Homo sapiens: one gene and its partners. The protein of the gene in region 1 purifies or fractionates together with the protein of each later gene. This does not show direct contact. Each region holds a gene or a part of one and is shown in the gene's direction. Other genes may lie near its edges.

Region 1 (5,769 bases):
TTTTTCATGATAAACCTTTCCATCGTATTGTATTAACAAATAACAATACAATTTGATGAAATTGTAAAGATTGAAATGCTAAAATTAAAAAGTATACTTACTTGGAAAAATACCAAACACTGTTGAACACATAGTAGGTGCTTAAATTTTTGTTTAGGCTCTTCAAACATGCTGTGTAATTGAGCTTATTTATTTTATGAGGTTAAGATTTGTTTCTCAACTTCAGTTGCCCCAAATTAGAAATCATGTTTTGTGCTGAATCAGAACAATTTGTCTTTTTTCAACTTAGATTTGAAATAACTTTGAGTTCTTAGCAGATACTCCTTCAGTCAAATAATTACCTTATATTTGGCCGCAAAGGTTAAATTATTATCTAAAATTCTCTTTGGCATATAGTTTAACATTCTCTTCCATACCCTGTTTGTAAACTTGACATAACCAATTGTAAGTCATTTCCAAGGCAATTGTGACATGTTAAAAAATTAGTCTTCTGTGTAAGTAGTCCTTTGTTGAGGGGTCAAAATCTATTTCATAGAGGTTTTTCTAGTATTGCTGCATGTTAGAATAGGACTTATCTACATCAATATATAAATGCTAAGAGAATCTGTATACATTTTTGTTTCTGCAGAAAGACGAAGCCCAAATCCCCAACTACTAACTATTCCGGAGGCAGCAACCATCTTACTGGCGTCCCTTCAGAAATCACCAGAAGGTACTAGCATAGTGGCCTCTTTCACCTGCATAACAGAACAGCTTTGCTTACTTTCGGGATTCTGTGTTGAGTGCAACACCCCTCCCCCAGAATTTCTTGGCCTTAGGCCCAGAAATTCTAATTCTGTACTGCTTGAGTGAGGCCCAAGAATCTCTGTCCTTAAGAAGTTCTTCCACATTATTCTGATGATTGGTCAGGTTTGAAAACAGGAACTTCAGAGCCCGTTAATAAAGGTTGAAATCATGAGAATGGAGATACCTTCTAGGGCTTAGATATAGTGGGAAAAGGGAAGACAATAAAACACCCAAAAATCAAGGGAAATGGGGGGAAATAGTACCAGTGAAGGGACATTAAAAGGAGCAAGCAGAAAGGTAAGAGGAAAATCAGAATAAGAGAGTATCCCAGAATTCATTCAGTAGCTGATGCTACTGATCCCGCTCCTCTTGAAACTTTCCAGGGATGGAAACTATCAGAATGGTTACTATAGCAGAATGGTTAGTAAGAATACAGAACTCAGGGGACATTAAACAGTGTGTCACAGGACTTCCCCCCACCTCCTGCCCAGTGACACAGCTTGCTGCTGCTATTCCATATCTGAAACTTTGTTTACAGAATGTGATACAAGAAAGTAAACTGCAAAGTTAAGAGAAAGCAGGTCTCAGGCTCTGGAGAGCTGGCATGACTCTCAGAACTCTTGCAGTGAAAAGGTGTGAAATAGTTGAATAACGGGTAGAGGATGCTGTATCCAAGGTGTTCTTTTTAAAACCCAAGACATGGAACCCAGCGATTTTTGGAGTCAGTACGAAAAGAGCTCTGATGGAGATTGGTTGATAGTGACGTTTTAGATTTGATTGTTGGGAAAATGTGCAGAGCCAGAAAGGAAAGTGACTTATAATGGACAAGAGAGAGCTAATTTTAAAGAGGAGAGGTATCTTCATTAGCAATTTGAGGAAAGGATGTGATTATAGGTCCCCATCTCAAGTCTTTTTTGGAAAATAAATATGTATTTTTTTAATTATTGAAGTTTTCTAAGTGGATTGTCTCTGAAGATGAAATGACTAATTTTATTAGTCTAAATTGATAGAAAAGTTTTTGATTCCCATATGATAAATTAATCACTAGTCTTCTTTAGTATTTTTATTCTATACTACCTCATTATTATTTAGAAGGCTCTTATTTAGTGAATTATGGTTTCAGTGGAATTTATACAGGGACGCCGTTCTGGTTTTGTTTTGTTTTGTTTTGTTTTCTTCCTTCCCTTTAAAGAGAAGCCCATTTTCTGCAATGGTTTAAAGTGTGCTAGAAATTCAGGTTAAGATGTAACCCAAACATTCAAATTATATTGCAACTAACTGAAAGAATGTGCTTTTATCTAGAGGTGATCTTAGAAGAAATTAGTAGATGCACTTTGCCCCTGGCCACTGCTTCTCCCTACCGTATTGTAACTTTTAGTCATTCTATCCTATTTTTAGAGTCCCAGGAACCTGCTATTGTCTAACTCTTTAAGTATCCCCACCTCAGAAGTGATACCTCATGCTCTAAAGTTTCGCGATCCCAGCCAGCAAACGAGTGCCTCTTCTTTTTGTCTCATTTCCTCCCCAGAACTCTAGCTCCCCTAATAAAAGAACATTTGCAAATGTGTTCCCATGTCATCTTTCCCGAGCAAGATCCATTTTAACAGGAAATATAAAGAGACAGTCCTTTGATGCAAGTGAATTATTTTAATGGTGGGTATTTTAGATATAAGTCAATCTGTGAGAGCAAGACACATGACTTTTGAGATTTTTACCAGACATACCATACTGTAGTTTCAGTCATTATAGAGGTTCAGATGTAAAATATGAATTCCCCAATGTGTCCCAAGCTGAGAAAAAAAGATTTTAAACTGAGCAAATCAAAGCCCATATTGTTTAAATTTTCAGTAGCAGAGTCCATAAGTTAACATAGCTTAGAAGGCTAAATGTTTATTTCCTGAGATTCTCTTTGTCTTACCTTTTCCTCTATTAAAACGCAGAGTGTATATTTATTTTAAAGAATTTTTTTTTCTTACAGATGAAGAAAAAAACTTTGATCAAACCAGATTCCTGGAAGACAGTCTGCTTAACTGGTGAAAATATACTGGATTATGTTTAATTATGGTTCTATTCTCTTTGAAAACATGAACCATGTGAATAAAACCTTTGGACCCTTTTATTCCATTTGTAATCTTAAGAACACACACAGATAGTTTTATTCTTTCAGAAACAAAATATATATAGGATGCTTAGCTGAGAACATCATCTTCTTTCATTGCTTCAGGTCCTGTTTAGATGACCAAAAATGTTTTCAGATCACCTTGTGTCTTACTCTTGAGTTTCTTAGAATATTTATAATTATAAGGCTGAAGACTAAAGTGTTCTTTCCTTTTAACTATAGCCAGTACCTGTCTTGATCTTAGTTGTGTTTTTTTTTCATTTTGTTACCCACTTGCATTTTGTTTTCACTCAGCAGAAATTCTCCTTCTCTGTTTTCCTTTTATCCCATCCCCAAGAATGTGGAAGGAAGGTGAGAAACATGGCAGGATGGGAAATAGGAGAGTATGACTCTCTATAGCTCATCCAGGAGTAATCAATTAAGAAGATAAATTGGATGACTGTGGAGAAGCTCTGTGATAGGAACACTTCAGTGTGGTTGCTGAGAGGAGACAGTCATTGAGGTAGAAGGTTTGCCAAAGATCCAGAGCTCAGAGCTCCCTTTGTGCTCTTTGGGAATTACCTTGCATTCAGTTTAGAAACATGGATCTAAAAGTTACTGGGAAATAAGCAGATGGAGACACACTCTGTTGTTTACGTATTGGAAGAAGGGAACAAGCCAGTTTTGTTAGAGGTAACTCATTTTCCATGACCAAACAGACTCAACAGATTCAAGTACTCTGCTTACTCTAATTGACTAGACTCTAGGTTTTATTTGACATCATAGCATTACATAAATCACTCTGATAACATAAGTGCACAGTAATATGCCTGATCTCTTCCTTTTTAAAAGCCAACTTGAGTTCAGTACCATCTGAATACACACACATGCACATATACCCACACACGCATACACACATACTCCTGTGGCAAACATAATAATGTATTTATTTAGAATTATAATATGACCATCATGTTAATTATTTTTTACCTAATCAGAGTTGTTATTGACAAATGTCATAAGTGGAAAGTATTAATTCTTATTGTCATCAGTATTTAGCCATTATTTAGTAGCTCAAGAATATCTTTATGTGAATGTCTCTGTAACTTGGAATTGCAATTTCACTGTGTTAAGTAATCAGAACTCTGCTTATAAGATTTATCTGTATCTTGTTTCATAATTTAATAATGAAACTAAATTCAAGTTAATGTAATGTTGATCTCCGTCGAAAAATAACTTGTGAGCATTAAAATATCTGTATGGCATTATAATAGGCACCTGTCATTAATTATGATTTGATTTGAAAGTAGACTTACTAGGTAGTGCTTACATCTGATTTATTGAAAATTTTTTCCAAAAGCATTGTCTTTTATTTATACAGTCCTAACCACTTCACCATTAGGAGGGGTGGGACATTAAAAATTATTTACCCATCAGACATAAAATTGTACAAATTGACTATTCAAAATAGTATGTGTATTCAAAGAACACTTTTAACATCTATCTTATGAAATAATTCTTCCTACAACTAACCAGAACAATCTCAAAAATGTCATACTAACCATTGTTTTAAAAGCTGTCTCAATGATCAATAGCTGTTAAAATATAGCTCCAAGTATTCTAAGTACTCAAATTCCTTGAATGTTCTTATGTACAAATATGCTGATTAATTAAAAGGTCCCTCTTCCCAATTTTCTATAACTTTCCAACTCTCTTATGGTGTCTATATTCTGTTTATTTCTAGATTTTTAAAAAACCAAAATGAACAAGTGATCATAGATCAGAAAACCTTCACATTATATGGCTTGTGTTTTAAAATTGGGAATTTTCTGGCTTCAACACACAGATACATGCACTAGAATACCTTGATCTGCAGGGAGCGCTTTCAGCCACTTTCTGCACAGTTCTCATTGCCCTTCTCTTTTTTGCCTCTATAGCCTACCTCGGCTATCTGGCCTCCATCCTGGGCTCTTAATTATTCTTTGTTTTCCAGTAGTTGCCTTCGCTCCCTCAATACCATCATTGTGTTCCTAAGAGAGGAGAGAAGAAGGCGAAGTGACCCTGGCTTGTTCAGATTAGCCTCCAGCTTGCATTTCTTCTTTACCTGGTTATGATAAATGAAAATGTGTATCTTACAATCTTGAATTACATTATTTTATCTTGACCACAAAGAAAGGGAAGTTGGGAATGTAACTTCATTCTGTTCGGTCGCTTCATACTGGGCTATAAATTCCTTTAGAAAGAGCTCATTTTTAATTTGATTTGATCCTCACAACAACTGTGTGAAATGGGCCATTTTATTGCCCTTAGTACTCATAGAAATTTGGGTTCATTCAGTGAAGACTCTTCGGACCTCCCTAAGTAGACTTAACTAGTCCCCCTCCTGAGTCTTCCTTGTACCCTGGAAAACTATTAGTATAACACCTTGTAACATTTATGTTCTCATCTGCATATATAAAACCAGTTCTGTTCACTCTAACTCTTACTATGGAAGAGACAGTAGTATCTTGATCAGTTCAGGCTGCTAAAACAAAATACCACAAACTGTGTGGCTTATAAACAACAGAAATTTATTTCTCACAATTCTGGAGCCTGAGAAGTTCAAGATCAAGGTGTCAACAGAATCAGTGTCTGGTAGAAGGCCCATTTCTCATAGATGGCGCTTTCTTGCTGTGTCCTCACGTGGTGGAAAGGGCAAGGCAGCTCTCTGGGGCCTCTTTTATAAGGGCAGTAATCCTATTCATGAGGGCTCTGTCCACATGATCTAATCACTTCCCAAAGGCTCTGCCTCCTTTGTGGATACCATCACATTGGGGATTAGGATTTCAATACAGACGGGCCCAACTTATGATGGTTCGATTTATGATTTTTCAACTTTATGATGG
Region 2 (3,500 bases), on another chromosome or scaffold:
GCTGCTTGTATGTATTGTATATGTTTAAGTGTACTTTACATCTTTCTTTTATTCATCTTGAATTGAGAAACTACTATATTCTATTTTATGTAATTGGATCCCTTCTAAAAAATTGATCACCTAGGAGTTGCAAAGAAACCAAATAGCCCTGAAACTTGACAAATGAAAATGGCCCTTTCAGTTGTCCAATTAAGCTAAGGGTTAGCTCTTTGATATGATTTGGAGGGATATTAGTAAGAATTTAGATCAACAGGTTTGCATGATGGAGATTGTGTTCTGTGATGTATTGTCTTAGAGAGACTTTTAAATCCTTAAAAGAATCTTCACAACTGTTGAGTCCTGAAGAATGAAAAACTTCAGTTATGAAAGTAATCAATATTTCATAGTATGTTGGGAATTTTTTCCTAATTCTTATACAATTAAATGTATGTAACTTCTCCCTTTGGTAAACACATTTCTTTTTTTTTTTTTTTCAAATTAAAACCCTCAATACTTGTTACCTAAAAGGCACTCAACTGTGTAAATGAACAGGTAGAATTCAGTCTCCAGTCCACTGTTAGATGCATTCATTCTTGTTTACTCTATTCCTGTTGATTTATTTTTTCTCTTCCAACAATTTCAATAGGAGCAAGCTGCTACAATTCCTCTTTTTGAATATTTTGAATATATTAAAAATATATTGGCCACTAGCCACGTCCTGGGTGCAGTGTTAAACATCAGTTTGCTTGAGTGGTAGTAGTTCATTCCTTTGAAAAAGCGTGCATCGTGAAGGCATACAACTTTAAAATATTGTCATGATTCTCAACAAATGTTTGAGCACTCACTCCATAGATTTATTGCATACCTAATAAAACAATAACTTATGTTTGTGTAACATTTTACAACATAAAAAGTACTTTTGGTTGTATCATCTTGCTTTGTTCTTGAAACTCAGATACATTTTTACTTTACCCTCTTACAGAAGAAATTGAGGTGCAGAAAGAAATTATTTGCCCTGAATTGCAGCAGTAAGTGCCTACAGAGTGATTTTCCATATTCTAAGAATATTGATACAGTTCTTAATCTCAAATTATGAAGTCGAATCTCAACAGTAGATCAGATTCGGAGAGAGCCTTAAAATGTGGGTTTAACATGAGTGAACACATGTGGCAAAGATAAAGAACTTGGTTAAGCAGTGGAGACAAGTTCTCCAGCACTCACACCCCTTAGAAGCTGCAGTAAACAGTCCTGTTTTCTAGAGAGAGGGCACTATTCATGGCGTTGTTCAGAACGTTACAGATTGTGGCTTATGTCCTTCACTCCTGCACTTGGCCAGTCTCCCCATTTCTCCAGCAAGCCAGCAGTGTGTCCTTGAGGAGCGGGCATTTATTTAATGGACCTTCATTTTCTTCTGCTTTTGGTGGTGGCTTCTAGATGGCATTATAATCAGAACACATACTTAGATACTGCAATGTTTGCCCGTGCAGGAACTAGAGATTTATAAATCCCACATATTCCCCATGGTGTGTCTGATCTGCTGTGTGTTTGCTCCCAGGAGCCATCTGTGTGTGAAAAGGAGGCCTTGCCCATCTCTGAGAGCTCCTTTAAGCTCCTCGGCTCCTCGGAGGACCTGTCCAGTGACTCGGAGAGTCATCTCCCAGAAGAGCCAGCTCCGCTGTCGCCCCAGCAGGCCTTCAGGAGGCGAGCAAACACCCTGAGTCACTTCCCCATCGAATGCCAGGAACCTCCACAACCTGCCCGGGGGTCCCCGGGGGTTTCGCAAAGGAAACTTATGAGGTATCACTCAGTGAGCACAGAGACGCCTCATGAACGAAAGTAAGATTTGTTTAAATTTGTTGCATAAATAGCTGGGGCATATCTGTGACTAGCCAGGTATGTGCATCCCAGGTATGTTTATTGAGTGAGAGAAATGAGTCAGGCTTTACTCTTGGTTTGGAGATAAAACTGGAAGCAGTGACATGTTCGTTCGAGCTGCTTGTGAGTATACAAGCAATGGGTACTTGTATTGTCAGGAAGCAAGTGAAAGTGAGCAAAAATGGTACCTAACATGCATAGTCATTACTCCTCAAACAAAGTAAGAGACGTTGTTGACTGTGGAACTTTGCTGCTGTGAGGAAGAGGGCAAGCGGATGAGTCTCCCCATCTGAAGCCCTGGAGCAGGGTTATAATGGGAGGGAGAGGCGCTGATCCTTACAGGCAGAGCAAGAGAGGTATGCTGGCCTCATAGGGTGACAGGGGTGCTTCAGCTTCTGGTCCTAGCTCTGCCGTGAACTAATTGTGACCTGGACGAATTTGCTAAATTCTCTGAATAACAAAATTGGAGTAGATGTTTTCTAAAATCTCTCACTGTAAGAATTCTAGATTCTTCTAACAAGATTTATTCATTGTAATAGTTGGGTTCCTGTGACCAGTTAGAATCGTCTGGTTATGGAGAAGAGTAATCAGAAGTTCCCCCCATTCCTTCCAAGTGTCCCTTAGTGATTCATTTAACTCTGTGTGCCAGAGACTATAAATGGACACAGTTATCTTTAAAAACAACTTTAAACAATTTTAAAAATCTCTCACCTAATATGAATCAAGGTCACACCTGTGTACAGTCGCTGCCTTCTTCTGACCAGCAGCCGCAGAAGTCCCAGGACCTATGTGTTCGTGTAGTTCATACACGGATCATTGAGAGTGTGAGTTAGTACAGAAGTGTTTGGAATGTTCTGAGTAAAGAAGTGTGAGCATTAACAGTCCTGGATGATGGAGCAGAGCCTCCCAGCTTTGTTTTCTGTCAGCCATTGGAAAGAGTTCTTGGTTCTTTGGAATTCAGCGGGGTAGTGGTGATCCCAAAAGCAGGGGACATGTCAGAAGGTACTGCTTAATAAATACACGCTTTTAGAGACACACATCGTTGGGTTGTAGCTGTGTAAGTTTCTTGTGTTTAACACCCTGTCTGCACATTACTTCTGTGCTGCCTCACCACTGCCTGCCCACTCCTCTGTTGTTGGCGTTTTCAGTGATCATTGAAACATTCCTGTCTGGAGAGTCCTAGTTCTCTTGTGAAGTCTGCTGTTTCTCAAAAGCCAGAGTTGATAGGACTTAGTATCAGTACTTTTCCTTTCTCCATGAAGAATGTAGCTTTATAATAGATGATGTCACACATCCGTAATGGGAGGGATGAGGAGATGCCTGTCTGTCTGCCTCTCTAGCATGGCCCATTCTGCTTTCTTTCCCCCTTGTGAGCTCTTTTCCGATTTATCTACAGGAAATAAGACATTGAAATTCAGGGCAGGATATTGTTCATTTTAAAGGGAAATGTATTTTTTAAAGTTCAGTTTTTTTTTGCTTTTGTTTATACTTTAATTAAAAATTTTTTTTCCTGCCAGTTCCTGAAAAAGAAAATAGAGAAAGAAATATTATTGTTCCTGGGCGAAGTGGCTCACTCCTGTAATCCCAGAGCTTTGGGAGACTGAGGTGGGAGGTTGCTTGAGGCCAAGAGTTCAAGGTCACAGTCA
Region 3 (3,477 bases), on another chromosome or scaffold:
TATGCACAGGAAGCAAGAGACTATAAAAATGACCAAGCAGATTTTAAAAAGAGAACTTGTTGAAATAAAAATAAAATACTCTAAAAAATATTCCATGATGTGTTTCCTGAAGAATCGGGAACTGTTTGAAGAAATGACCCAAAGTGCAGCACAGAAAGACAGAGCTGGAAAATATGAGATGGGATGAGACAAGAAGATGGAGAGTTTAGTATGACATCCGCAATTTACGAGTAATTCCAGAAGGAGGGGAAAGAGAATATGGGGTGGAGGCAAGTATTCAGAGAAATACGGCTGAGAACTTTCCCAAACCAACAGGAGCCCCTGCTCCTTAGGTTCAGGAACCAGCAGCTCCCAAGCAGCATAGTTAAAAAGCTCTACCCAAACAGTCACGTCTTGGTGAAAGTACAGAATCTCATGACAAAGAGATCTTAAGGCAGAAAAGAAAGAGATTATCTGGAAAGAAGAAAATAAGTAGTTGATTAAAAGCAACAGTGGAAGCCAGAAAGATAGTAAATAATATCTTCAAAGTCCTGGGAGAAAATAGTGATAGCCTAGAATTGTGTACCCAGAAAATCCGTCTTTCAAGAATGAGGGGCCAGGCGCAGTGGCTCACGTCTGTATTCCCAGCACTTTGGGAGGCCAAGGCAGGTGGATCACCTGAGGTCAGGAGTTCAAGACCAGCCTGATCAACATGGTGAAACCCTGTCTCTACTAAAAATATAAAAATTAGCTGGGTGTGGTGGCATATTCCTGTAATCCCAGCTACTCGGGAGGCTGAGGCAGGAGAATCACTTGAACCCAGGAGGCAGAGGTTGCAGTGAGCCAAGATTGTGCCATTGCACTCCAGCCTGGGCAATAGAATGAGACTCTGTCTCAAAAAAAAAAAAAAAAAAAAAAAAAAAAAGAGGGCTAAACGCATTTTCATACCACGAAACTGCCCTCACTCCGGAGTTTGCTGCCAGCAGAGCCTAGAGCGTCTAAGGCATGTCTGGGCTTCTGGCGAGGGATCCTGTGGGGAAGCTGGAGATGGAAGAAGGAGTGAATAGGCAGGAAGGTGGATTTGTGGGCATGTCTAAAACACCACATCTAGAAGCTTCTACTTAGAATGCCTACTTTTGGAGTTTATAAAAAAGATGCCACATGTTGAGTTGGGAGAGAGGTGCCCAAACCTACAGTGTTCTAAAGTCCCCCTACTGGTCGGAAGGAGGGCACGGACACTGACTTCAGCATCTGTTACAAGGCTTATCAGAGTTTTCAGATAATCTCTAAAAGAATGGAAATATATCTTCCAAACTATAGAGGGAAGACCATGGAATTTAAAAGCCAGTCCTTCAAGGAGAAATGAACAAACTCAAAATCGTAGTTGGGAGTGTTTTTTTTTTTTTTGAGACAGAGTCTCACTCTTGCCCAGGCTGGAGTGGAGTGGCATAAACACAGCTCACTACAGCCTCAACCTTCTGGGCTCAGATGATTCTCCTGCCTCAGCCTCCTGAGTAGCAGGAACTACAGGTGTGAGTCATCACACTCAGCTAATTTTTTTTTTTTTTTTTTACTTTTTGTAGAGATGGGGTTCTCACTGCATTGCCCAGGCTGGTCTTGAATTTCTGGGCTCAGGTGATCTTCCCACCTCAGCCTCCTGAGTAGCTGGGACCACAGGTGCATGCTAATTTTTAAAATTTTTTGTTTTTAAATGCTGGTCTTCAACTCTTGTCCCCAAGTAGCTGGGATTGGGGCATGAGGCACTGTGCTAACTTCATGTTGAAATTGAATTGCCATTCTAACAGTGTTAAGAGATGGGGCCTGTAAGAGGTGATTAGGCTGTGAGGGCTCCACTCTCCAAGGGCGGAGTTAATGTTATGAAAGGGTAAGTCCAGCCCGCTTGTGCCTCTCTTGCCCTCCAGTGTTCAAAGCACCATCTTGGAGGTGGAATTCCCAAGTCGGCCAGTTCCTGGATCTTGGACTGTCCGGTCTCCAGAACCGTGAGCCAATAAACCTCTGTTCCTTGTAAATGAGTCAGCCTCAGGTATTCTCTTGTAGCAGCACAAATGGAGGCAGACACTTCCTTCACCAATCTCATGGGAGGCCCACTCCTGTGAGCTGCCTCTAGTTCCCCAGGCCACAGACTCCATCAGGGCTCACCTGGAGCCGTCCCTGTCTCACCTGGAAGCTCTCCCACTCCTCTGGCCAGCCTGGGCATCTCCACCCAATATGAGTGATGGCGACTGATTCCCTTACTTTAGCAAGCTGGGAATAAGGAATGTTTGCCTGTTCTTATTCAGGGGTCTCTGCATCTCCACACTTGCACAGGTTGTGTGTACATACATTTTCCTGTCTTTCTGGTAAGCCCCTGGGGTGGAGCTCTGGGCCACAGGGCAGGAAAACTCAGTGTTGCTAGGAACTGCCAGACATTTTCCCGGAGTGAGTGCAGCATTTACATTCCCACCAGAAGTGTGCCAGGTTCTTGTCATACTGCGTCCTCGCCAGCGCTTGGTGCTGTCAGTCTTCTTAGTTTCCATTTAGAGATTCAGTGTTTAAATTTTGAACGTCTTGGGTGAACACCTTGGTTTGAGAAAAGTAAGAAAAAGGGTCTGTCTGGCTATGGGCCATGGAGACCCAGGGCAGTGCTCCACGTGCCAACCCTGGGGCAGGGAGCCCAAGCTAGGACTGTGACTGTCTGGGCTGTGGGCATCTGACCATCTCCAGTGTCCCCGTCTTTGATTTCCCTGGCGATGGTGCTAGCTTAGTTTGTGCGCATCGGCATTTGTGGGAGAAATGAAGGATTAATACATTTTGTTTTATGTCAGACTCTCTCAGTGAGAAGTTCTCAGGGACAATAATAGCAGGGGGTCCTGCTGAAGAAAAACTGGGAGATGGCTGAGCTCTGGTCCATCTTTCATTGATTCATTCATTTCTTCATTCATTCAACCATGTATTGAATGCTTATAGCCAATGAAAATAAAGTACACAGTATATTTTATTGCTACGGGCTCTATGGTGAAAAATGAAGCAGGAAAGCGGGACAGGGTGTGTGTGGTGGGGACGGGGTGTGTATGGTGGGGACGGGGTGTGTGGTGGGGGGACGGGAAGTGTGTGGTGGGGACGAGGTGTGTGGTGGGGACGGGGTGTGTGTGGTGGGGACGGGGTGTGTGCGGTGGGGATGGGGTGTGCGGTGGGGACGGGGTGTGTGTGGTGGGGAGATGGGGTGTGTGTGGTGGGGACGAGGTGTGCGGTGGGGACGGGGTGTGTGTGGTGGGGAGATGAGGTGTGTGCGCTGGGGACGGGGTGTGTGCGGTGGGGACGGGGTGTGTGTGCTGGGGACGGGGTGTGTGCGGTGGGGACGGGGTGTGTGCGGTGGGGACGGGGTGTGTGCGGTGGGGACGGGGTGTGTGCGGTGGGGACGGGGTGTGTGTGGGGGGATGGGGTGTGTGGGGGAGGACGGGGTTTGTATGGTGGGGACGGGGTGTGTGGTGGGTGGGG
Region 4 (3,537 bases), on another chromosome or scaffold:
AGATGGAGTAGATATCAGATAAAACAATTCACGTTTAATATGTAAATGTACCAATTATGTGATTCAGTTTCAACTTTCAAGTACTTCCTGAGAGGTTAGTACATTATTATTGAGCTCTCACAGAAAGCTTAATCATAGATATAATTAACCTGATCCAAATGAGTAAAGTGGACCTTAGAAAGGCTAAGTGATCTTTCTCTGGCTATCCAGCTAGTAGTAATGAAGTCAGGTCTTGAACCCCGGTTCTGCTGACTGAATTGGATGCACTATAGTACAGGCTTTTAGCACCGAAGTGTGGTCCTCAGACCAGTGCCTGCCAACCAGATGTTACTGGTCTGTGAGGAAATAAGTACAGATACTGACAGGAAGCTTTTATAAACAATTTATTGGAGTGTTTTTGTTTCTGTTGGGTCTAATTAAAAAAATTGGAGCTTGTATTTTATGTGTCTTTGGTCTTATTTTGTCTAGGAATTCATTTTTGCTGGGTTTTTTTTTTTCAACTGTAGTCCCACAACAGTCTGAAAATAACCCAGTCACCAGATATCTTCCTCAAATACAGAGGGAGAACTTTCTTTCACGCCTCCTTTAGCCTGTCGACTCCTTATAATAATGCCTAAATATTCCAAATTAATACTGCCTCTTTAACCTGCTAATTGTTTTCACAATGTTACAAGAAAACTTGGATCTGTGCATTATCACCATCTAGTGGCTAAACTCAGGCAACACGAACTTCTACCAAACTCAGGAAATTGCTCTGGAAAAACTACAGGATTTTGGATTTCCAGAACTGCCTTGAAGAGACAAAGATTCTTGTACCAAGTTTTGGTCAACTGCAAATCAAAGAACTTGGTTATGCAGGGAAAACAAATGAGGATATCTGTACCTGGAACTTTTAAACAAGATTCTAATAGTTATGTGAAAAAAGCATTCAAGATTTTTGAGTAGGCACAGTGGCTTACGCCTGTAATCCTATCACTTTGCGAAACTGAGGTGGTGGAAGGATCACTGAAGGTCGGGAGTTCAAGACCAGCCTGGCCAATGTGGTGAAACCCCGTTTCTCCTAAAATTAAAAAAAAAAAAAAAAAGCTAGGGGTGGTGGTCCATGCCTGTAATCCCAGCTACACGTGAGGCTAAGGCAGGAGAATCACTTGAACCCAGGAGGCAGAGGTTGCAGTGAGCTGAGATGGCGCCACTGCACTCCAGCCTGGGCGACAGAGCGAGACTCCGTCTCAAAAAAAAAGCATTCAAGATTTTTCATTGTTCCTAAGAATCTTAATTAAATGAAGACAGAAAGCATCATAAAGTCAGGTAACTACAGCACAGACAGCATTAACATTTACAAAAGTATTTCTTAAGAATTAAACCTGTCAGCTCTACTTACAAGATGTAGAGCTTTCAGGTGAAGATGATTCAAGAACATGCTTTCAAAATAGTAGTTGAGAAACCAAAACATAGCCACGCAGAAATCTGCCAATTAAGTTTTGCTGCCCTTTGAGCAATATGACTTAATGTGATTTACTTTAATTATAACTTAAGTACAACTTAAATGCAGTTTCTATTTTGCTATTGTTATAGATGTAGGCTGGGTGCGGTGGCTTATGCCTGTAATCCTAACACATACTTTGGGAGGCCAAGGTGGACGGATCACTTGAGGTCAGGAGTTCGAGACCAGCCTGGCCAACATGGTGAAACCCCGTCTCTACTGAAAATACAAAAATTAGCTGGTTGTGGTGGAGCATGCCTGTAGTCCCAGCTACTTGGGAGGCTGAGGCAGGAGAATCACTTGAATCCAGGAGGTGGAGGTTCCCACGAGCCAAGATCGCACCACTGCACTCCAGCCTGGCAACAGAGTGAGACTCCGTCTCAAAAAAATGTTGTAGATGTATAAAATTTATACATTTTTAGTCTGACTAGGGCTTTAGAGTGAATATATCTCCTCATTAATCTGGCACAAAATTAGTTAAGTAAGTATACCCACAAAGTGTCATCTAATATATTGTTGCATGTAGAGGAAAACACAGTGAAGAAACCTACTAACTTTATTTGGAACCCTCAATATTGGTGGCTCCTTAAAAATTGGAGAAAAAAATCAAGTCTTAGGAAGTCTTATCCAGTTTTATGGTCTGCTGTGGTGGCACTTAATGAATTACCTGGAATTATAGTTCCTGTAAGATGTTTTATTTTTTAAATAGTTGGCAGGCTATACAAAGAGTGATGTTCCAAAACTACACACATGCTTTTTCCCTGTTCACAAAGGCAAACAGGCTGGCCAAAGTGTTTCCAGCATCTTCGTCATATTTACCCTTTATTATCCAAGTGGTTTCCTGCTCTTCAAACCTTCCTTTCAAAATTTTGTCTCCTACTTAAAACAAGTTAGGATTATTTATCCTTTTATTGGACTGATTATTCTAAGGATAAGCTCTTACTTCACTTTCGGAGTAAAAGGCTTTGTGCCCTTTTTAAAGTTGGGTGTCAGCAAGCAGCTGGAATTTTCCTGCCTGGTAAAATTAAAACCAGCCCCACAAACTGGGGTTGGAGTCTGTGCAAAGCTCATTACTATCTATGTGTGGGGTAGAAATTATAGTGTGTTAAAGGACCTAGTGTAAAAAAAAAAAATTTTAAAGGACCTAGTGGAGGCTTGAACCTTCTTCACATGAACGTCTTCCTTTCAGCCTAAAGTTCTTAAAATGCACTAAATTGACTTAATCTTCAATCATACCTATTTTTTCTGATATGGTTACAACAGCCCAAATTACCAAGATAAGTTGAAAGCCAGTAAAACAATGAAAATAATTTCAATAGTTGAAAAACTATTCTAATTTATATAAAGACATTTATCTCTAAAAAGACTGGTTGGGTTCAAGGACCCTTAAAGACTGATTCTATGTCTAAATAATCTGTTTTATAAGTTCTCATTCTGAATGCAGAAAGAACCTATTATTTTCTGTATAAAAATTTAAAAATTTATATTTCATGGTAGGTTTTAAATTTCCTATTTCTTTAGGCATCAGAGCTTATTTCAAGAATAGATTCCATGAGCCTAACCTTGTATCTTCAAAAAGGCGAGTCTATCATAAACATTGTTTAATATTAAATATTATATCCATCAAATATGGATTTGAAACATTTTTAAGTTTAAAGTCAAATGTTTGTGTAGTTTTTAAAAAGTAAAATACAACAGCATTAGTAACTTTTTATTCTCAAAGTGATAAAAGCATTTAACATATACTTTACAGTATAAACAAATTAAGTACTATGCATTTTGCTTATAAAGTGACAAAGTATTTTAAGCATTATATAATTCAATTTGTACAAAAAGTAAATTTCCAAATACAAGCTTTGGTTAGTAGAACTGATTATGTACTGTCAAATCCATTTTTCCAAAGTTGTTCAAGGAAAAACAACAACTTGACTAGCACAGGTAATTCTTGTACAATCAGAGCTTTTTACTATTTAGAAGGAGGGGATATATTACTATAATTGCTGTTAATTTTCGAATCTAGATAAGCCTTTTTTCTTCTCATATGTTGCTGTAGG

What was found. The genes of interacting proteins can lie anywhere in the genome.
Region 2: the proteins of SPX (region 1) and TBC1D1 purify together in Homo sapiens (affinity purification with mass spectrometry; one large-scale study listed by BioGRID and IntAct). This does not show direct contact.
Region 3: the proteins of SPX (region 1) and IBA57 purify together in Homo sapiens (affinity purification with mass spectrometry; one large-scale study listed by BioGRID and IntAct). This does not show direct contact.
Region 4: the proteins of SPX (region 1) and CLN5 purify together in Homo sapiens (affinity purification with mass spectrometry; one large-scale study listed by BioGRID and IntAct). This does not show direct contact.

What each region holds. Positions count from the first base shown.
Region 1 is NC_000012.12:21,528,373-21,534,141, forward strand, and holds the end of SPX (spexin precursor), read left to right. Parts: intron 1-628; coding exon 629-712; intron 713-2,764; coding exon 2,765-2,823; 3' UTR 2,824-4,575; downstream 4,576-5,769. UniProt on the Homo sapiens protein: Plays a role as a central modulator of cardiovascular and renal function and nociception. Also plays a role in energy metabolism and storage. Inhibits adrenocortical cell proliferation with minor stimulation on corticosteroid release.
Region 2 is NC_000004.12:38,048,084-38,051,583, forward strand, and holds part of TBC1D1 (TBC1 domain family member 1), read left to right. Parts: intron 1-1,534; coding exon 1,535-1,815; intron 1,816-3,500. UniProt on the Homo sapiens protein: May act as a GTPase-activating protein for Rab family protein(s). May play a role in the cell cycle and differentiation of various tissues.
Region 3 is NC_000001.11:228,179,281-228,182,757, forward strand, and holds the end of IBA57 (iron-sulfur cluster assembly factor IBA57, mitochondrial isoform 1 precursor), read left to right. Parts: 3' UTR 1-2,977; downstream 2,978-3,477. UniProt on the Homo sapiens protein: Mitochondrial protein involved in the maturation of mitochondrial [4Fe-4S]-proteins in the late stage of the iron-sulfur cluster assembly pathway. Operates in cooperation with ISCA2 in the maturation of [4Fe-4S] proteins.
Region 4 is NC_000013.11:77,002,081-77,005,617, forward strand, and holds the end of CLN5 (bis(monoacylglycero)phosphate synthase CLN5), read left to right. Parts: 3' UTR 1-3,037; downstream 3,038-3,537. UniProt on the Homo sapiens protein: Exhibits palmitoyl protein thioesterase (S-depalmitoylation) activity in vitro and most likely plays a role in protein S-depalmitoylation.